Regions from separate parts of the Homo sapiens genome. Here region 2 is linked to region 1. The links come from fine-mapping of genetic effects on gene expression. A gene starts in region 1. The other region holds a variant in brackets. All regions are shown on one strand. Distances are from middle to middle.

Region 1 (2,909 bases):
GAATTTATTTTATGTTATGCATTTGTATGTTTATTTATTCGGATGCTCAGAAGCTGAAGATAACTAGTGCTCCTGGTCCATGCCATTCATCAATTGGAAGAATGCCAAGCTGTTTCCGCTGAGGACAGAAGGCATTGGTCTCCCCTGCAGGAAGCCACTGCTGCTCCTTAATTGTTTGCTAGAGGAAGAATCAAGGGTAAAATTTAAAGTAAATGGCTGGCCGAGTTGCACTAATTCATCAAAGCATGTTTCAAGTCAGTAGTCAGAGCATGCATCAGCCCCCGGCGCCACCAGCTTCTACGAGAGTGGAAAAGCCAGCAGACCTCCGAGCAGATGAAATCATTAGGAGGCATTCAGCAGGGCTTGAAAAGCAAAGAGAGAGGAGGCGGGGATTTCTCTGCATGCTCCCTTTGCCACATGGGAAACACCAGCTGTCTGTGACCTAGTTATCCAAGAAAGGAAACACGGAAGAGAACCCACAAAACTGTTTGCTACATGAGAACCCCATTCTCCAAAGACATGCTGGATGTTGAGAAAACAATTAGCATCTTCTAGTTTGACTCTATTTTTTTTTTTTTTTGCTTAGAGATTTTTGGTAGCAATAAAGACAAGCCCTATTACAGTAGCCTAAGAAAATGGAATTTTTAGGGATAGCCCATGGATAGGAAGTAAAAATCTTGGTTCATGAAAGATGGGAAGTAGGAACTGGAATGTTTTTGGAAAATCTATCAGCATCTCACCTCTTTCTCTTGCTCTCTCTCTCTCATTACATGGCCCTTTATTTGTGCAACAATTCATTTTCCTACTTCTCTATGAAGGTCTCTCTTCTTGCTTTTAAGCATGAAGCCACTCATTCATTCAGTAAATATGTATTTAATGCTAACAGGTGCTGGCACTGCCCAAGATGCCAGGGCTACAGCAATCAACAAAACAGACAAAATCCCTGCCCTCGTGAAATGTACACTGTGGTGAGGCAGGTGAGGCAGGCAGAAACTGAACAAGATAAATAAGTAAAAGATACAGTGTGCAAGAGGGCAGTGAGTGCTTGGAAGAAAAGATCAAGGGAGGAGAAGTGAAATACTGGCAAAGTAGTTGAAATCTTAAATAAAATGGTCATGGGAGACCCCACTGAGAAAGTCATTTCTGAGTGAAACCTGAAGGAAGTAAGAAGTTAGCATTGCAATTGTCTGGGGCAGAGCATGCTGAGGAGAGGGAATAGCAGGTGCAAAGGGCCTGGGGTGGTTCAAGGAGCTAGCAGAGAGGCCATTGAGGAAGGAGGTTAAGCAAGTGAGGGGGATTAGTTAGAGGTGAAGTCATAGACCTGGGGGCACAGATCACAAAGCGTTTTCTAGGTCATAGTGAGGACTTTGGCTTTTACTCTGAGTGAGATCAGAAGATCCCAAAAGGCCACCACAAGATGATATTCACGTGGTCCACCTAATCCAGTAGTCAGTCCTTATTGCTAACTTGCACACAGTCAAGCTCCCTTAGTCTCCAAAAGAGGAGATCCAAGCAACGATACTTCATGAGCAGTCGGCTTCGAGAGTCATCCTGAGTTTTCAAGGCTGACACAAATATCAGTCTAACTACGCAGTCCACCTGTGTAAATATTTGGGGAATAGTGGATGGTTAAGGAAGAGACCTAGTATGAGATAAAGTGTCCAGGCCCTGCACACATTTGGGTCTCACAGAATTAACTGGCAAATGCTAGTAAGAGTATCAGGACCTTAGGAAATAGAGATTCCTTTAGAAAACTCTAATTCCCAGAAAGATTTTCACATAAGACCTTCACACAAAGACAAAATTAGAATGTGTGTTCTCTCACCATCTCCTTATCCAGAGAGTCCTTAGATGTGGCAGAAGGACCCACAAGAGTTGTCAGAGGCAGTTGTGAGGGGTTGCCAGTCATGTTAGTATTAATAGATATCATGAGAAGTTAGACACGTTTTTGAATAAATTAGAATGAATTAAATATTAACCCAAAATGTCATTATGCTCACTCCCTACCCTCCCACTATGCTTTCCTGACAGAGAAAGAAAGGGTGGCACTGTGGCTGGAATACAGAGCCCACAGGACTTCAGCATGTCCTACACATAAACCTCCTCCTTTTTGTGACCCTTGGTGGAAAAAGTATGAGAGCCACGTATCTTAGAAATAACTGCCTTTCCTCCCTAGATGCCTGCCACAAAAACAGACATGTTCTAGAACTTTCTTCTCCCTAGTTCCAAGAACACTGAACTCATGGTAATGGCCAAACAATGATCTTTTTCTAAGGACAATGTCAGAATGCTTTACTGTGCCATTTTCATAATCAGACACAAGAAAGTTACCATCTGTAGTTCAGCCATAGCACTTCACATGAAAGAGGAAATGACTAAATATATATTTACATAGCTCTCATGAATATGCATTTTGTAAATGCACAAATATGTACAATTACTTGATAGACTGTTTTGGTTCCTATCTTTCGAATATTTAATACAACTGTAAATGTTTAATTCATATTTACTGAGTTGATTGAACAGTTTCTAAATTATCCCAAGCCTTGCTGGAAACAAGATTGAATGTTTCCAGCATATTTGCACACTAGGATTTGGCCAGGAGAATCCACACTAACTGGTTAAATGATGATTTTCTTAGAAAGCATATTGAATAAGCTGCTGGTGAAATCATCTTGCTGACCACAACATAGAGGGACAGCACCAGATCTAATTCCAACCATGACCTGCAGAGCCTCTCATGACTAGGCCCCCCTGATGCCTCTTTGCACCTCTGTCTGCACTGCCCCTCATTGCTAAGCCACAATCAACCCATGTTCCACTTTCAGTCCTCTGCACCAGCTGCTCCATGTGTCCAGAATGCTCTTCACATAGACATCAAGCCTTTGCTCTAATGTCACCTTTTCAAT
Region 2 (2,909 bases), 49 kb before region 1:
ACTCCTGCCCGCCAGAGAACAAACCCCCTTTGACTGTAATTTTCCTTTACCTACCCAAATCCTATAAAACGGCCCCACCCTTATCTCCCTTCGCTGACTCTCTTTTTGGACTCAGCCCGCCTGCACCCAGGTGAAATAAACAGCCATGTTGCTCACACAAAGCCTGTTTGGTGGTCTCTTCACACGGACGCGCATGAAATTTGGTGCTGTGGCTCGGCTCGGGGGACCTCCTTTGGGAGATCAATCCCCTGTCCTCCTGTTCTTTGCTCCATGAGAAACATCCACCTACGACCTCAGGTCCTCAGACCAACCAGCCCAAGAAACATCTCACCAATTTCAAATCCGGTAAGCAGCCTCTTTTTACTCTCTTCTCCAACCTCCCTCACTATCCCTCAACCTCTTTCTCCTTTCAATCTTGGTGCCACACTTCAATGTCTCCCTTAATTTCAATTCCTTTCATTTTCTGGTAGCGACAAAGGAGACACGTTTTATCCGTGGACCCAAAACTCCGGCTCCGGTCACGGACTGGGAAGGCAGCCTTCCCTTGGTGTTTAATCCTTGCAGGGACGCCTCTCTGATTATACACTCACGTTTCAAGGGTGTCAGACCACACGCAGGGACGCCTGCCTTGGTCCTTCACCCTTAGCGGCAAGTCCCGCTTTTCTGGGGAAGGGGCAAGTACCCCAACCCCTTCTCTGCTTTTCTGGGGCAGGGGCAAGTACCCCTCAACCCCTTCTCCTTCACCCTTAGCGGCAAGTCCTGCTTTCCTGGGGGGCAAGAACCCCCCAGTTGCTTATTTCCGCACCCCGACCTCTTATCTCTGTGTCCCAATCCCTTATTTCCATGCCCCAACCTCGTATCTCTGCACCCCAATCCCTTATTTCCGTGCCCCAACCTCTTATATCTCTGTGCCCCAATCCCTTATTTCCACACCCCAACCTCTTATCTCTGCACCCCACCCCTTTTCTGGAAGGTAAGAACCCCCGAACCCCTTCCCTCCATTTCTCTACTCTCTCTTTTCTCTAGGCTTGCTTCCTTCAGTATAGGCAACCTTCCACCCTCCATTCCTCCTTCTACTCCCTTGGCCTGTGTTCTCAAAAACTTAAAACCTCTTCAACTCACACCTGACCTAAAACCTAAATGCCTTATTTTCTTCTGCAATGCCACTTGACCCCAATACAAACTCGACAGTAGTTCCAAATAGCCAGAAAATGGCACTTTGAATTTTTCCATCCTGCAAGATCTAAATAATTCTTGTTGTAAAATAGGCAAACAGTCCGAGGCGCCTGACGTCCAGGCATTCTTTTACACATCAGTCCCTTCCTAGTCTCTGTGCCCAGTACAACTCGTCCCAAATCTTCCTTCTTTCCCTCCCGCCTGTCCCCTCAGTCCCAACCCCAAGCATCGCTGAGTCTTTCTAATCTTCCTTTTCTACAGACCCATCTGACCTCTCACCTCCTCGCCAGGCCGAGCTAGGTCCCAATTCTTCCTCAGCCTCCGCTCCTCCACCCTATAATCTTTTTATCGCCTCCGCTCCTCACACCTGGTCCGGCTTACAGTTTCTTTCCGTGACTAGCCCTCCCTCACCTGCCCAGCAATTTACTCTTAGAAAG[G/T]TGGCTGGAGCTAAAGGCATAGTCAAGGTTAATGCTCCTTTTTCTTTATCCCAAATCAGATAGCGTTTAGGCTCTTTTTCATCAAATATAAAAATCCAGCCCAGTTCATGACTTGTTTAGCAGCAATACTGAGATACTTTACAGCCCTAGACCCTAAAAGGTCAAAAGGCCGTCTTATTCTCAAAATGCACTTTATTACCCATTCTGCTCCCGACATTAAATAAAACTCCAAAAATTAAATTCCGGCCCTCAAACCCCATGACAGGATTTAATTAACCTCGCCTTCAAGGTGTACAATAATAGAAAAAAGTTGCAATTACTTGCCTCCACTGTGAGACAAACCCCAGCCACATCTGCAGCACACAAGAACTTCCAAACGCCTGAACCGCAGCGGCCAGGCGTTCCTCCAGAACCTCCTCCCCCAGGAGCTTGCTACATGTGCCGGAAATCTGGCCACTGGGCCAAGGAATGCCCGCAGCCTGGGATTCCTCCTAAGCCGTGTCCCATCTGTGTGGGACCCCACTGAAAATTGGACTGTTCAACTCACCTGGCAGCCACTCCCAGAGCCCCTAGAACGCTGGTCCAAGGCTCTCTGACTGACTCCTTCCCAGATCTTCTCGGCTTAGCAGCTGAAGACTGACACTGCCTGATTGCCTCGGAAGCCCCCTAGACCATCACGGACGCCAAGCTTTGGGTTACTCTCACAGTGGAAGGTAAGCCCGTCCCCTTCTTAATCAATATGGAGGCTACCCACTCCACATTACCTTCTTTTCAAGGGCCTGTTTCCCTTGCCTCCATAACTGTTGTGGGTATTGACGGCCAGGCTTCTAAACCTCTTAAAACTCCCCAACTCTGGTGCCAACTTAGACAATACTCTTTTAAGCACTCCTTTTTAGTTATCCCCACCTGCCCAGTTCCCTTATTAGGCTGAGACACTTTAACTAAATTATCTGCTTCCCTGACTATTCCTGGACTACAGCTATATCTCATTGCCGCCCTTCTTCCCAATCCAAAGCCTCCTTGCGTCCTCCTCTTGTATCCCCCGACCCTAACCCACAAGTATAAGATACCTCTACTCCCTCCTTGGTGACCCCTTACCATCTCATTAAAACCTAATCACCCTTACCCCACTCAACGCCAATATCCCATCCCGCAGCACGCTTTAAAAAGATTAAAGCCTGTTATCACTCACCTGCTACAGCATGGCCTTTTAAAACCTATAAACTCTCCTTACAATTCCCCCATTTTACCTGTCCTAAAACCAGACAAGCCTTACAAGTTAGTTCAGGATCTGCG

Direction of the effects. Positions count from the first base shown, and alleles are read on the strand shown. Sizes are in standard deviations (SD) of each study's normalised expression.
As copies of G replace T in region 2, the expression in transverse colon of the gene that starts at base 1,246 in region 1 goes down (large effect, 1.5 SD a copy in GTEx).

The links.
Region 2: its variant is fine-mapped to the expression of CASC8 in transverse colon (GTEx, PIP 0.93).

The regions. Positions count from the first base shown.
Region 1 is chr8:127,480,894-127,483,802 of GRCh38, forward strand. CASC8 (cancer susceptibility 8) reads right to left here and starts at 1,246. Exons shown (of 6, transcript NR_117100.1): 1 at 741-1,246; 2 at 1-178.
Region 2 is chr8:127,431,951-127,434,859 of GRCh38, forward strand. All of the region lies in intron 4 of CASC8 (cancer susceptibility 8), which reads right to left. Among named protein-coding and RNA genes, the nearest start is that of POU5F1B, 18 kb to the left of the region's middle. RefSeq lists an enhancer at 266-1,180. The variant G/T (reference allele first, on the strand shown) is at 1,614.